Homo sapiens: one gene and its partner. The protein of the gene in region 2 interacts with the protein of the main gene of each other region in a pairwise test. Each region holds a gene or a part of one and is shown on either strand. Other genes may lie near its edges.

Region 1 (7,961 bases), on a different chromosome or scaffold from region 2:
AATTAATTTATTTATTTATTTAGAGACAGAGTCTCGCCCTGTCACCTAGGCTGGAGTGCAATGGCGTGATCTCAGCTCACTGCAACCTCTGCCTCCTGGGTTCAAGCGAGTCTCCTGCCTCATCCTCCTGAGTAGCTGGGATTACAGGCACCTGCCACCACACAGCTAATTTTTTGTATTTTTAGTAGAAACGGGGTTTCACTATGTTGGCCAGGCTGGTCTCGAACTCCTGACCTTGTGATCTGCCCACCTCGGCCTCCCCAAGTACTGGGATTACAGGTGTGAGCCACCATGCCCGGCCCTTTTTTATTTATTTGTTTTAGAGATAGAGTCTCACTCTCTTGCCCAGGCTGAAGTGCAGTGGTGCGATCATAGCTCAATGCAGCCTCCAACTCCTGGGTTGAGGCGAGCCTCCCATCTCAGCCTCCGAGTAGCTGGGACTACAAGCACACACCATCACGCCCAACTAATTTTTCTTTATTTAATTTTTGGTAAAGACGGGGTCTCCCTCTGTCATCCCAGCTGATCCAGAACTCCTTGGCTGGAGTGATCCTACTGCTTTAGCCCCCCAAAGTGCGGGGATTGGGATTTTTGCAAATAAGTAGCTTAGGATATAGGCAGGGCGCGGTGGCTCAGCCTGTAATCCCAGCACTTTGGTGGGCCGAGGTGGGCAGATCACCTGAAGTCAAGAGTTTGAGACAAGCCTGGCCAACATGGTGAAACCCGGTCTCTACTAAAAATACAAAAATTAGGCCGGGCACGGTGGGTCACGCCTGTAATCCCAGCACTTTGGGAGGCCAAGGCCGGGCGGATCACAGGTTCAGGAGATCGAGACCATCCTGGCTAACACAGTGAAACCCCATCTCTACTAAAAAAAAAAAAAAAAAAAAAAAAAAAATTAGCCGGGCGTGGTGGCGGGTGCCTGTAGTCCCAGCTACTCGGGAGACTGAGGCAGGAGAATGGCATGAACCTGGGAGGCGGAGCTTGCAGTGAGCCGAGATCATGCCACTCCACTCCAGCCTGGGCAATAGAGCTAGACGCCGTCTCAAAAAAATAATAATAATAAAATAAACATTAGCCAGGTGCGGTGGCAGGCGTCTGTAATCCCAGCTACTTGGGAGGCAGAGGTTGCAGTGAGCCAAGATTGGGCCGCTGCACTCCAGCCTGGGCGACAGAGTGAGACTCCATCTCAAAAAAAAAAAAGCATGGGTACAGTAGGAGCAGGATTAAATAAATACATGCAGCTGGGCGCAGTGGCTCATGGCTGTAATCCCAGTACTTTGGGAGGCTGAGGCGGGTGGAGGTTGAGGTCGGGAGTTCGAGACAAGCCTGACCAACATAAAGAAACCCTATCTCTACTAAAAATACAAAATTAGCCAGGCATGGTGGCGCATCCCTGTAATCCCAGCTAACTCGGGAGGCTGAGGCAAGAGAATGGCTTGAATCTGGGAGGCAGAGCTTGTGGTGAGCCAAGACTGCGCCATTGCACTCCAGCCCAGGCAACAAGAGTGAAACTCCATCTCAAAAAAAATAAAGGCCAGGTGTGGTGACTCATGCCTGTAATCCCAGCACTTTCGGAGGCTGAGGCAGCTGGATCACATGGTCAGGAGTTTGAGACCAGCCTGGCCAACATGGTGAAACCCCATCTCTACTAAAAATACAAAAATTAGCCAAGCATGGTGGCACATTCCTGTAATCCCAGCTACTCAGGAGGCTAAGGCAGGAGAATCACTTGAACCCGGGAGGCGGAGGTTGCAGTGAGCCGAGATCATGCCATTGCACTCCAGCCTGGGCAACAGAGTGAGACTCTGTCTCAAAAAAATAAATAAATAAATAAATAAGTAAATAAATACATGCATATACACATATGAACCTACGAACATGGGATGAGGCCAGGCGTGGTGGCTCACACCTGTCATCCCAGCACTTTGGTGGGAGGATTAGTTAAGCCCAGTAGTTCCAGACCAGCCTGGACAACATAGACCCCATCTCTACAAAAAATTTAAAAATTAGCTGGGTGTGCTAGTGCACGCCTGTAGTCCCAGTTGCTATTTGGGAGCTGAGACAGGAGGATCACTTGAGCCTGGGAGTTCAAGGCTACAGTGAGCTATGATTGCACCGCTGCACTCCAGCCTGGGCAACAGAGCGAGACTGTACTTCAAAATATAAAAACCGACAAAACAAACAGATCTAAACATAGAAAAGGTACAGGAAGCCAGGTGCAATGGCTCACACCTGTAAACCTAGCACTTTGGGAGTCTGAGGCGAGCAGATTGCTTGAGTCCAGGATTTCAAGACCAGCCTGGGCAACATAGTGAGACCCCATTCCTACAAAAAGTACAAAAATTAGCCAGGTGTCTTGCCGTAGTCCCAGCTTTATGTAGTCCCAGCTACTCGGGAGGCCAAGGTTGAAGGATAGCTTGAAGCTGGGAGGTTGAGCCTGCAGTAAGCTGAGGTCGTGCCACTGTACTCCAGCCTGGGCAACAGACCGAGACCCTGTCTAAAAAAAAGAAGAAAAAGTACAGGAAAAATACGGTATATATGGTATTATAATCTTATGGGACCACTGTAGTATATGCAGTCCATTGTTGGCTGAAATGTCATTATTCTCTTTTTTTTTTGAGACGGAGTCTCACTCTCACCCAGGCTGGAGTGCAGTGGTGTGATCTTGGCTCACTGCAGCCTCCACCTCCCGGGTTCAAGCGATTCTCCTGCCTCAGCCTCCTAAGTAGCTGAGATTACAGGCTAGTGCCATCACGCCTGGCTAATTTTTGTATTTTTAGTAGAGATGGGGTAGTGCCATGTTGGCCAGGCTAGTCTTGAACTCCTGACCTCAAGTGATCTGCCCGCCTTGGCCTCCCAAAGGGCTGGCATTACTGGCATGAGCCACTGCACCCGGCCTACGGTATTATAATCTTATGGGACCTCTGTAGTATATGTGATGTATTGCTGGCTGGAATGCTGTTATTCTCTGCAGGACTGCATAATGAACATTCAGGCCTATATTCACAGGTTGTCCAAGGCAGGTCTGGCCTGCAGGCCATAGCTTGAGACCCTCCTGCTAGTCTAAGGTCTCTGATTCCTGTGAGGTTTAATTTTCCTTATCCCCGTTTTGCAGATAGGGAAAACCAAGGCAGAATCCTTTGCTCCCAGGCCTTCGAGGTTTATAAGAAGTAGAACTGGGTTATAAACTGGACAGCATGGCCAGGTGTGGTGGCTCACGCCTATAATCACAGCACTTTTGGAGGCCAGTTCGGATGAATCACTGGAGATCAGGAGTTCGAGACCAGCCTGGCCAACATGGTGAAACCCCGTCTCTACTAAAAATACAAAAATTAGCTGGGCATGGTGGCGGGCGCCTGTAATCTCAGTTACTCGGGAGGCTGAGGCAGGATAATCACTTGAACCCGGGAGGCAGAGGTTGCAGTGAGCCGAGATGACACCACTGCACTCCAACCTGGGCGACAGAGCGAGACTCCATCTCTAAATAAATAAATAAATAAACTGGACAGTGTGATTCTTGGGACTGTCTGCATGGGACGAGCCCAGCTGTGTGTTCTGGTCTTCACAGAGACCCTTCTCCTTTTCCTTGCAGCCCGCATCGCCACATCCCTGGATGGCTTTGACGTCGCGTCCGTGCAGCAGCAGCGGCAGGAACAGAGCTACTTCGTACGTCTGGGCTCCCTGTCGGAGAGGCTGCGGCAGCACGCCTATGAGCACTCGCTGGGCAAGCTTCGAGCCACCAAGCAGAGGGCACAGGAGGCTCTGCTGCAGCTGTCGCAGGTCCTAAGCCTGGTGAGGTTCCAGGGGGTCGGGGCCCTGAGCCAGCAGCCTTCACCCCGCAGCAGACACCCACCCAGAGCTCAGTGGCTTATTGCTCACCCCTCTGCAGGCTGGCAGGGCCATTCCCGCTTGCTCCTGGCACTGTATCTGGTTGTACACTCATTTGCTCAGGATGCTGCCACAAACCACACTGTCTGGGGCCGGGCACAGTGGCTCACACCTCTTTGTGTGAGTCCCTCAAGTGCTTTGGGAGCCCAAGGCAGGAGGATCGCATGAGTCCAGGGGTTTGAGACCCACCTGGGCAATATAGCAAGACCCCATCTCTACAAAAAATAATTTAAAACAATTAGCTGGCTGTGGTGGTGCGTGCCTGTAATCTCAGCTACTTGGGAGGCTGAGGTGGGACGATTGCTTGAGCCCAGGAGTTGGAGGCTGCAGTGAGCTATGATTGTGCCACTGCACTGCAGCCTAGTCAACAGAGCAAGACCCCATCTCAAAAAAAAAAAAAAAATCGTGGCCAGGTGCGGTGGCTCATGCCTGTAATCCCAGCACTTTGGGAGGCTGAGGCGGGTGGATCACGAGGTCAGGAGTTCAAGACCAGCCTGGCCAACATGGTGAAACCCCATCTCTACTAAAAATACAAAAATTAGCCAGGTACAATGGCAGGCACCTGTAATCCCAGCTACTCAGGAGGCTGAGGCAGGAGAATCGCTTGAACCCGGGCGGCAGAGATTGCAGTGAGCCGAGATCATGCTACTGCTCTCCAGCCTGGGTGACAAGAGTGAGACTCCATCTCAAAAAAAAAAAAAAAAAATTCGTACTGTCTGGGAAATGTAAACAACAGATATTTATTTTCTCACATTTCTGGAGGCTGGAAGTCCAAGATCAGAGTGTCCTTCTGGGGCCTCTCTCCTTGACTCGTAGACAGCCATCTTCTCTCTGTGTATTCACGTGGTCGTCCCTTCCCTCTGTGTATGTCTGTGTCCTAATCTCTTTTTTTTCTTTGAACGGAGTCTCGCTCTGTTGCCCAGGCGGGAGTGTAGTGGTGCAATCTCAGATCACTGCAACCTCCACTTCCCGGGTTCAAGTGATTCTTGGGCCTCCACGTCCCGAGTAGCTGGGATCACAGGCACTTGCCACCATGCCTGGCTAATTTTTGTATTTTTAGTAGAGATGGGGTTTCACTATGTTGGCCGGGCTGGTCTCAAACTCCTGACCTCAAGTGATCCACCCACCTCAGCCTCCCAAAGTGCTGGGATTACAGACACGAGCCACCACGCACAGCTCTAATCTCCTTATTGAAGGAGACCAGCCCTTTATGGATTGGAGCCCACCCTAATGGATAGCTTCATTTACCTTTATGACGATTTTTTTTTTTTTTTTTCCAGAGACAGGGGCTCACTCTGTTGCCCAGGCTGGAGTGGATGATCATGGCTCACTGCAGCCTCTTAGGTGCACCCATCTTGGAGCATATGTCTGCCATCATTCCTCTTTATTTATTTTTCTTTTCTTTTTGTGGCGCGATCTCAGCTCACTGCAAGCTCCGCCTCCTGGGTTCATGCCATTCTCCTGCCTCAGCCTTCTGGTAGCTGGGACTACAGGCGCCGGCCACCATGCCTGGCTAATTTTCTTTTCTATTTTTAGTAGAGATGGGGTTTCACAGTGTTAGCCAGGATGGTCTTGATCTCCTGACCTCTTGATCCGCCCGCCTCGGCCTCCCAAAGTGCTGGAATTACAGGCGTGAGCCACCGCGCCCGGCCTTTTTTTTTTTTTTTTTGAGACGGAGTCTCGCTCTGTCACCCAGGCTGGAGTGCAGTGGCATGCAGTCTCTGCTCACTGCAAGCTCTGCCTCCTTGGTTCACACCATTCTCTTGCCTCAGCCTCCCGAGTAGCTGGGACTACAGGCGCCCACCACCACGCTGGGCTAATTTTTTGTATTTTTAGTAGAGATGGGGTTTCACCGTGTTAGCCAGGATGGTCTCGATCTCCTCACCTCGTGATCCACCCGCCTCGGCCTCCCAAAGTGCTGGGATTACAGGTGTGAGCCACTGCGCTCGGCCGACTATTTTTCTTTTCTCTTAAACTTTATGTAATATGTAGAGATGAGATGTCACTGTGTTGCCTATGCTGTTCTGGAGCTACTGAGCTCAACTGATCCAACCCCCTTGGCCTCCCAAAGCGCTGGGATTGCAGAAGTCAGCCTGCTTCGTTCCTTTGGAAGGCTGAGTCATATTTCATTACAAGCACTTTTTTTTGTTTTTTGTTTTTTGTTGTTTTGAGATAGAGTCTGGCTCTGTCACCCAGGCTGGAGTGCAGTGGCGCAATCTCAGCTCACTGCAACCTCCGCCTCCCAGGTTCAAGCGATTCTCGTGCCTCAGCCTCCTGAGTAGCTGGGACTACAGATGTGCACCACCACACCTGGCTAATTTTTGTATTTTTAGTAGAGACGGGGTTTCACCATGTTGGTTAGGCTGGTCTCGAACTCCTGAACTCAGGTGATCCACCCACCTCAACCTCCCAAAGTGCTGGGATTACAGGTGTGAGCCACCATGCCCAGCCTACAAGCACTTTTTAAGCCTTTGCTGGTTCCATCTGCTCATGTCCCATTGGCCAAAGCCAGCCACGTGTCCAGGCTCCCTTGCAAGCGCAGGAGAAATTGACACAATGGGAAGAGCTACAGGGGATGTGCAGCCCTTCTTTGCACCAACCACACAGAGCCTGAGTATGTCAATGATTAAACCAAAGGCCCCAGAGCTCACCGTAGCCAGGAAACCCTTCCTCCCTCCCTCCCTTTCTCTTTTCTAGACTGTCATGTAAGTCAGATGCTGGAAGGATTCCTTGGGTTCCTTCTGGAATCCCGTCTCTCCCAGGGGAGCCTCCTTCCCTCACTTCTCTCTCCCCTGCCCCAGATGGAAACTGTCAAGCAAGGCGTTGATCAGAAGCTGGTGGAAGGCCAGGAGAAGCTGCACCAGATGTGGCTCAGCTGGAACCAGAAGCAGCTCCAGGGCCCCGAGAAGGAGCCGCCCAAGCCAGAGGTACCCATGAGGGGACTGGGGGGTGGCCTAGGGTACTTGGAGTCCCGATGCCACTCTCTACACCTCTGCTTCATGGGCCTACCTGCTTCGAATGATTTCCCTAGCCTCACCTGCTTTTGGAAGCTAATGACACCTCCTTCAGGAAGCCTGCCTTGATTTCTCCTCTTGGGCATGCATAGGTATGGCTTCTGTTTTTTGTTTTGAGATGGAGTGTTGCTCTGTCACCCAGGCTGGAGTACAATGGCATGATCTTGGCTCACTGCAACCTCCACCTCCTGGGTTCGAGTGATTCTCCTGCCTCAGCCTCCCTAGTAGCTGGGATTACAGGCGCTCACCACCACGCCTGGCTAATTTTTTTGTATTTTTAGTAGAGACAGGGTTTCACCATGTTGGCCAGGCTGGTCTTGAACTCCTGACCTCAAGTGATCCGCCCTGCCCAGCCTCCCAAAGTGTTGGGATTACAAGCGTGAGCTACTGAGCCCGGCCCCTAGCAGCAACTTCTGACTAGTATTCTCCGGCCCCCTCCACTCTATCTCAAGCCTTGGCCTCTTGTGTTCTCTAATGGGTCTCGCTGCCTGTCCCACCACCCACTTAAGCTCCCCAGGGGCAAAGGAAGTTTGCAGTGAGCCGAGATCGCACCACTGCACTCCAGCCTGGGCAACAGAAGGAGATTCTGTCTCAAAAAACAGAAAATGTCCTGAAATTAGATGAAGGTAGTATTTGCCCAACCTTGTGAATGTATTAAAAACCAATGAATCGTACACTTCAAAGGGCGAGTTTTAGGGTGTGTGGATTATATATCAATTTTTGAAATAGTTGTTTATTTATCTTTGAGACAGGGTCTCACTCTGTTGCCCTGGCTGGAGTGCAGTGATGCCATCACAGGTCACTGTGGCCTCGCCATTGCAGGCTCAGGCAATCCTCTCGCCTCAGCCTCCCAAGTAGCTGGGAACACAGGCGTGTGCCACGATGCCTGGCTAATTTTTTTTTTAATTTTTAGTAGAGACAGGATCTCACTGTGTTGCCCAGGCTGGTCTTGAGCTCCTGGTGTCAAGCAATACTCCCACTTCAGCCTTCCAAAGCACTGGGATTACAGGCATGAGCCACCACACCCGACCCCAGATCAATTATTTATTTATTTAT
Region 2 (8,353 bases):
GTGCAAAACACAACTAAAGGAAGAAAGGAAACATTAATTAATGACAATAACATGGCAGGAAAAAAAAAACTCAAAACTTGTTATTCTTCACAAATGCACAAAACTTATGCATCCTTCATCTCAAAGCAGTTAACCCACCTGAGCACCCATATTTGGCAGAATAGTTAAAAATCTCCATGAAATCAAACTAGCCAATAAAGATTCACATAGATAAGATGTTCTTTTACTTTCAAGTTTTCCCAGAACCTCTGCCCAGCAAACAAATCACATTTCAGGCCCACCCATTCATCCGTCCATCCATCTTTTCATTCAAATGCACTAAAGTAAGCTTAACACAAATCTTTCTATTTTAACTCCTACCAAATGCTAGTCTCTGCAGCAGAAAGCACATGTGAGGACAAAGGTTAACCTGAGATATCAATCTCACAGTCAGCATGCCAGTTACTTGTGTACCTATCACCTAACACTTTCCCTAAGGCCATTCTTAGAAAGCTCTTTCTGCAAGAGACTTGTCCAGGCCGTGGGCATCTGAGGCTGGCCAAGGACAACTGGTGCTAGAGCAGTCAGCCATGCCTTTCTTCGCCATCCTTCTATAACAATAACTACTCAAATATGTCCTAAATATTCTCTGTGTCCAGCATTGTGCCCAATACTCTAAAAGGACACAAAATAAACAGGAAATGTGGTCACAGCTTTTGATAACTCACCTATTTGAACAAATGAGATTATATAAATGAAACTAAAAATAAAAGTATGTTCTTCAAGTTCCAAATGTTGCAATAGCTATAAAAGTCCAGAGAATGTAGGTCTGGAATGATTTTGACAACCACAGGGAAGAAAATAGGCCAAAAATGAGAGGCATTTAGGGTCAATGGAACAGGAAGATACAACAAAGCTAAAGACAATGTTGTCAGAGCAGGGTACAAGGATGACAGGCCATAAGGAGGCCACTCCCACTTTGGGGAGACTGATGAAAAACAGTAATAAGTCCCCAAGTCAGATAATGAGGAATAAAGAGGCCATTCTATAAGACAGGACACCCACCCTAGAGAATGAGTCCTGTGTTTCTGAGTTATTCCCTCTAAGCCCTGCCTGTGTGTGGCTTCCACAGTCACCAGGAAGGTGTCTGAGCTCCCTTACTACCACCACACCACTGTGGCTCATCTGACAAGCAATGCCCTCTAGAGGTGCTTTTCAGAACTGGTAGCACCTTGACACCCACTGAAACACAAAGTAGGGGAGGAGGGGATCGTAGTATTACTTAGAGTGTTCCCTTCTGCCACATGGTTATAGGAATAGGGTAATAAGTCAAGCTGAACGGAAAAAGAGAAGAGGTCTTTAGATTTAAAAAGAAAAACATCCTATACAATAGAAATAAAAACTCCCATCTGAGAAGTCCAGCTAAAAAGCAGACCTTACCAGCACCATGATAGTTGCAATCAAACGAGTAGGCTCAAACATTCGCTTCAGCTGTTTCACTGGTCCCATGAGGAAGATGGTACTAAAAGGCAAACACACGCACACAAGCCGTTCAGAACAGAACTGCACTAGGCACACTGAGTCGCCTCCCCAAGATTTCCTGTGGCAATAGTAGCTAACATTTGAAAAGCTCTCATTCTGACTGTGCTGAAGGGCCTTTCGTGCATTTTTCTCATTTAATCCATCAACAACCAACCTATAAAGTAGGAACAATTACCACACCAAAGCCCACAGAGTTACTTTATCCAAGGCCACCCAACTAGGGAATGATAGACCCAGGCTGTAAATGCATGTGGGTGTTACTGTAGAATCATATCATACCACTAGGTTGGATAAGCCTTCTCCTTGAGAGGTGTTACCTTGCCTCCCTGACAATAACTACTCATGGAAACAAACAAGGCTCAGGAAGTTTAAAGAAAAACCATACCTTACAGGCTTAGGTAGCTTATGTTAAAAAGTAGAGCATTTCATTTTCTTTCATAATCTTCAGGGAATAATTCTAATGATGATGATATCATCATGGGTTATTTGTTGAATGTTTGCTAAATGCCAGATATTACATATATTACCTCATTTCTTCTCCTCAACAACTTTGTGAGTTATGTATTACACTTATTTTAGAGACGAGAAAATCACACAGCTACCATTTGACTCTATAGCTATTGGATTCCAAAGCTCTAAAAAGACAGACCCAGCATGCTGGGTTTTTTTTGTTTGTTTTTTTTTTTTTGACATGGAGTCTCACTCTGTCGCCAGGCTGGAGTGCAGTGATGCAATCTCGGCTCATTGCAACCTCCACCTCCTGGGTTCAAGTGATTCTCCTGCCTCAGCCTCCCAAGTAGCTGGGACTACAGGCACACGCCACCACACCCAGCTAATTTTTGTATTTTTAGTAGAGACAGTTTCACCATGTTGGCCAGGATGGTCTCGATCTCTTGACCTCGTGATCCGCCCAACTCGGCCTCCCAAAGTGCTGGAATTATAGGCGTGAGCCACTGCGCCTGGCCCCCAGCATGCTTTCTGTATGAATGAACTTGAGAGATGGCTAGCAAGAGTAATCACAAATGAAGCAGACTGTCATGTCTAACACATCAACTTGGCATGAGCCACCACACCCGGCCAATAAGTCTTCCTCTCTTTGAAGTGCCATTAAGTTGCAAGGCTTCACTCTCAAGTGTCCCAACTAAGAGAACACTTCTTTAACCTACACCGAATAAGAAGCAACAGTCAAGGCTGGTCCTAAAAATTAAACATAGCATATACACAAAACCATAACAGACTACAGGCAAAGACACAAACTCCCAAATACCCTGAAAATAACAATTTGCTCCCTTTATTATTTCCCTACACAGTCTATGAAGAATCCAGCCCATAGGGATTTGCTAAAGAGCTCTTCTAGACTAAGCAACACACCCATATATTTATGCTCAGTCTAGACTATACAATGTAACTTACACTGTCTGCCCAAAACACCCCCCCACCCAAAGTTAGTATTGGAGAAAGCTTTACAGGCAACAAGAGACATCTCTAAGGGTCAGCATTTTACTGTCATAAGCACTAATAAATTAAGCTTTACACAGGTAGCCAGAATCATGCAATCAATCATTTAATTAACATCCCCCATTTCCAGCCAGACACAGAGCTAAGTTTGGGTACAACTGGGGACAAGATACACGTGCAGCCCTTATCAAGTGGCTTACAGATCTAACAAGTCAGTGTAATAAAATGCTACCTGCACTGGCACATAAATATAGATGTGATACTGAGAGTCCAAAGGAAGAGGTCATCAATTCTGGAGAGGAGGAGGTAATCAGGAAAAGCTTCATAGAAGAGGTAGCTTTTGAGCCAGGTCTTAACAAATGAGCAAGTATCTACCAAACCAGGGGAGGTACAGATAGGGCAGCATTCCAGGCACAGAAAACAACCAAACAAGGGCACAACGGCATTTTGGGAAATGCAAGAAGTTCAGCCTGGCTGGGAAGCACACTGGATAGGGAATGGGACAACGGTGAAGCCAGATCTCAAAGACGCTTGACTGTATGCGTGCTGAGGAATTTGGACTTCATTTGTACAGACAAAACAGGGGGCCACTTGAGGGGGCTAAGCAGGGCTATAAACGAATGGCTCTACAGCTCAGTGGAAAATGGCCTTGAGAGGGGCAATGGAGGAGACAGAGAGACCAAGCAGATGCATCTTGCTCAGGTAAGGGTGATAACAGGCCAAAGCTAAGGCCAGCTCAGATATCACCTTCTCTAGGAAGCCCTCCCTGACTCAGGTCGTGTCGGCTGCCCCTCCTTGAGAATTTCTTTCCATATCTTGTTATATCATGAGTTATATGTCTGTCTGCCTGGCAGGGACCAAACTGGACTTGTCTTTGTATCCTCTGAGCCCAGCACAGAGTGTGATCAATGCTTACCCATTGAGCATGCAAGTCAGTCAGTGAAGCACAAACAGCCATGGGGACAAAGAGGAAGGAGCCAGTAAGACAGGGTTACATCAAGCCCTGGTGAGGAATCATGGAGGGGAGACTTGGACCCCCAGGACTCTGAAGCCATTTACAGAGACACAAGGGAAGGGAAAAGGGGGAAACAAGATGACTGAGCTCAGGTTCCTGCAGGTCATTCAGGTAGAGGCCAGGCCAGTGCTCCCAGTTGGAGAGGGTGGAGTTGTTGGCACCAGTGTGACTGAAGCATCAGTGTGAATGAGCTTGACCTGGAAAATGTGTGCATCCACAACATGCAGAATGGGCTGCCCACCTCCAGGAAGCGCTCAGATGCCCTGCCCACATGAGCTGCTACTCAGGTCTGGGAAGGTCTGACACTAAATAAAAACCAGTTTCCCTTATGGCCACTGGAGTGATGAGCCCTTTGAAAACCATCAACTCAATCTCTGACAGCAGTAAGAATACAGCAAGCAGGAGGACTGGGTTGTAAACCCTGGAGAAATCACTGAACTGCTTTGTGTCGCAGTTTCTGTACATGTAAAATCACGATGGCAAAACATTTGCTGCTTTCTCCCAGGTGTTTCAAACTAAGATATAAAATGTTTTCAAATAATAAGATATGAATGTGAGATATTCTAACTACTTCTCTCCAAATTCCTTACAACTACTGGAGCCTCCTCTTTCACCTCCCTCAAGGGCAACCAACATCCATTTTCCCATCTAATGATTGGCTAAAATTGGATTTTTAAAAAACAGTTACCTCCCAATTGATGCGATATTACCAAAGGTATAAAACACTGCGAAGAGGTGTAGTCCCTTCCTGGGCACCCACAGCAGAACAGTACCCTGGAATTTAAAGTACAGTGTTTGCACATGAGCAACCCTCCCACCCGGCCACACAAGCAGAGCTCCCAGAGGAAGCCCTGAGGAGTCCGTTTCCCTCCCCACCTCCCTTATTCCCCTCTCCTCTCATCCATGCATTTTAGTGAAGGGCAAAAGGGGAAAGGAGGTGGACAAAAGGGGGAATATATAGCAAAGACAGGTAGAAGGAAAAGACAGAGGAGGAAGGGAAATCTTACCAGCAGTGAGCAGAGAATTCCTATAGCAAAACACGCAATGAAGCCTTTTATCCTGGTACTCCAGCTTAATGAAGATGCCTCAACAACCTAAAATTGAAAAAAAAAAAATACATATACACACACATTTACTAAAAACAAAGCAAGCACATAACTAAATCTAGAAAGTGTTAAGTTGTATTAGGGAAGGCAAGGAGCACAGAATCCTACACACTCAGGCGATGTAAGTCATCAAATCCAGACTTTATCAGAGCTGTAAAGTTATTATGCAGACATGAATCTCCTCTCTAGCAGCTGACAGCTGTGCCTCCAGCTGAACATCTTCAGAGGTAGAAACTCCTTGCCTCAAGCACAACCCATTTCAAGAACAGGAAGGCAAGACAGCCAATCCTAGAGTAGCCCAGAGCCTTCCTACAACCCAGGCAGGATGAAGACCACACCTGGAAAGGCATGCGTCCACCAGGGACTCACAAGTCCACCTGGGATCCTCCACCAGGCAGGGTCCCAGGAAATAAGGAAAAGATGAGGGGACGGCACTCAAGCAGCTGCTCCACTGGTCATCGTCTCCTACATCAACTCTCACCCACATTATTCACTCTTGGTTCAGATATTGTACTTACAGGATGCTGGCATCAGCCAACTCATCCAAGTGGGAGACAGATCCTGGTTAATTAATTACTGTCCTGTTACATCCTGAGTCTTTGCCATCATGATTAATCCCTCCCTGGAGCAAAGTTCAGGGGAAGCCAGGAGTTCCAAAAACACTACTGAAACAGGAGAGCCTGTGAGTAGCTCCCAGTGGTTCTTTTCCCATGTCAAAAATGACAACAGCCAGGCACAGTGGCTCATGCCTGTAATCCCAGCACCTTGGGAGACCAAGGTGGGCGCATCACCTGAGGTCAGGAGTTCGAGACCAGCCTGACCAACATGGCGAAACCTTGTCTCTACTAAAAATACAAAAAATTAGCCAGGTGTGGTGGTGCATGCCTGTAATCCCTGCTACTTGGAAGGCTGAGGCAGGAGAATTGCTTGAACCTGGGAGGTGGAGGTTGCAGTGAGCCGAGATCATACATTGTACTCCAGCCTGGGCAACAAGAGTGTAACTCTGTCTCGGAAAAAAATGACATCAAAGTTTTTGCACTGGTGACCCTACCAGTCTGTCCACCTGATGCAAGTGGGAACAGTTGTTCCAAGCTGGACAAAGACAGCTGCCGTAAGAGACCAACACCACACAGGGCAGCTAGGCCATGTATATTCACACAGGGCTCACCTTGTATGGCCAGCATAGTCTCCATCTAGCAATGTGGTCAAAGTTTCCTACTATATTTCCACCCAGCTGATGGAAGAAGGTAGGTAGTGGCAGAAAGTCAAGAGTCATTAGACTGGCAACTCCGTCAGCCTTGACTACCCCCAGCTCAGGGATCTGTTTTCAACCCTGTCTCCAGAGTTCCCGTCAAACCAGAAGCTTGAAAAGAAGGATGAGAGGCTCCCCTCAGGTGTGGCACGTATTGCCAAAGACTACCTTACTCTCCACTCAGGAGAAAGGTATTTAGGTCAGGTTATACATTCATATATATGGAACTGGGCTCATGACCCTGCACAGAAGGCACAAATTAGGGATGATAACAGACAGCAGGGGCCCAGTGTTAAGATCTGACAGATGAGCCACCTGGTTTTACGCTGAGGTAAACCTCTCCTGGAGGAGTCTGGTTTCCCAAACCCCCTTGGACTCCAAAATGAGCCATGTGATGATGCTCTGGTAGCAGGCTTTACAAGGCCCCAGACAATCTAGTCAGGCTACTTCGGACTAAAGCATTTAAGCTCTCGCCAAGGACAGAATAAAATGAGAAGCTACCACTCTTCCTAGTCATGCAAAAACCAAAGAACTTACCTTGCCAAGGTGCGAAAAGAACTAGCTGCAGGTGGGAAGAAAAGAGCGGTAGTAGGATTGGCCTGGCTTGTTCGTAGGAAGAAGAGTGGTAGTGGGATTGGCATGGCTTGTCTGTAGGAAGAAGAACGGTAGTAGGATTGGCCTGGCTTGTTCACAGGAAGAAGCATGGTAGTAGGATTGGACTGGCTTGTCAGCAGCAAGAAAAAAGTGGTAGTAAGATTGGACTGGATGGTTCCCTGAGCACCACATGGCATCAACACGGATAATTTTAAAAGATTCAACCTTTCTATTTGAAGAGGATAAACCATAAGGTTAAGAATGAAATTTGAATTGGCTTTGACATCTAGATTGCTAAATAACCTCAACAGAACAGTGAGATTCCAGAGAATGGCCTGAACCCGGGAGGCGGAGCCTGCAGTGAGCCGAGATCGAGCCACTGCACTCCAGCCTGGGCGACAGAGCGAGACTCCGCTCAGTCTCAGTGAGATTCCAGCCCTCACACAAATCAAAATAACCACAATAGGAAGCAGTTCAGCCAAGAATGTGTTTCTGGTTTCTACCTTCAGAAAGGAAAGTGACACTCCATATCCAAGTCTCTCAAGCTGAATCCATCCAAATGTTACTCTGTTTGCCAAAATGGAAGGGGTGGGGGGCATATTTCACCACTGTATTTTTCCATTACATGTGGTTGCAAGTTCTTTTACATTCACACTTGGTCAGGGAAGGAGGAAGCTGTTGTTCCACTTCTCATAACTGGACTCAGTGAAAGCAAAACACTTCTTTTTGCCAAATTATGAAAACAAACTCATAAAATGTCTGTAAATTCATGACTGCTGGAAGCTGTGCTAGCATATTGTTTTTGGAAATTAGAGTAGCTAAAATGGTACCTGGATGGAATTTGTAGGCAATGCGCTCACAGGCAGTCTGACTGGCAGTTATTCACAAAGGTCCCTTTCACTCTGTGATGTGGAGAGAAGAGGGGCTCTTGCCAAGAATAATACTAAGAATTGTTCAGAAAAACAGGATTGGTAACCAGAAGAAGGTAAGAAAGAAATACTGCTTCATTTCCACACTTTAAAATTAGATACTATTCATACCTTTCTTGTCCCCAGAATCCTTTATAAAAAACATAAAACCTATACTTTCAGAAAGAAGTCCATTGAAACTAAAGACTTAAGGTGTATTTATGAAGATGAGGTATCAATCACAAAATTCAACGTGAGGCTATAATTAGATACTGCCATGCAAATTTTATAACTACCTAGGAGAGGTAGGAGAAATAGAACTAGTCACACCTTTATGGTTTGCATTAAAGGAATAAAGGTTTTAAAAAGCACTCTCTTCTAGTGACCTCTTAAAGAGATTTTAAGAGCGCCTAATTCAACTTACCACACAAAATAGCAATTTCCCCACAGAATCCTCCAGTTCTACCAGCCCCCAAACCATGAAAAATATGAGACAATC

The links. Proteins that work in one complex are often made in the same cells at the same time.
Region 1: the proteins of SFT2D2 (region 2) and PLIN3 interact in binary tests that used the Homo sapiens proteins (3 or more experiments, as listed by UniProt).

Annotation. Positions count from the first base shown.
Region 1 is NC_000019.10:4,843,525-4,851,485, reverse strand, and holds part of PLIN3 (perilipin-3), read left to right. Parts: intron 1-3,595; coding exon 3,596-3,795; intron 3,796-6,692; coding exon 6,693-6,818; intron 6,819-7,961. UniProt on the Homo sapiens protein: Structural component of lipid droplets, which is required for the formation and maintenance of lipid storage droplets. Required for the transport of mannose 6-phosphate receptors (MPR) from endosomes to the trans-Golgi network.
Region 2 is NC_000001.11:168,228,249-168,236,601, reverse strand, and holds part of SFT2D2 (vesicle transport protein SFT2B), read right to left. Parts: intron 5,089-8,353; coding exon 5,002-5,088; intron 4,769-5,001; coding exon 4,683-4,768; intron 1,502-4,682; coding exon 1,420-1,501; intron 14-1,419; coding exon 1-13. UniProt on the Homo sapiens protein: May be involved in fusion of retrograde transport vesicles derived from an endocytic compartment with the Golgi complex.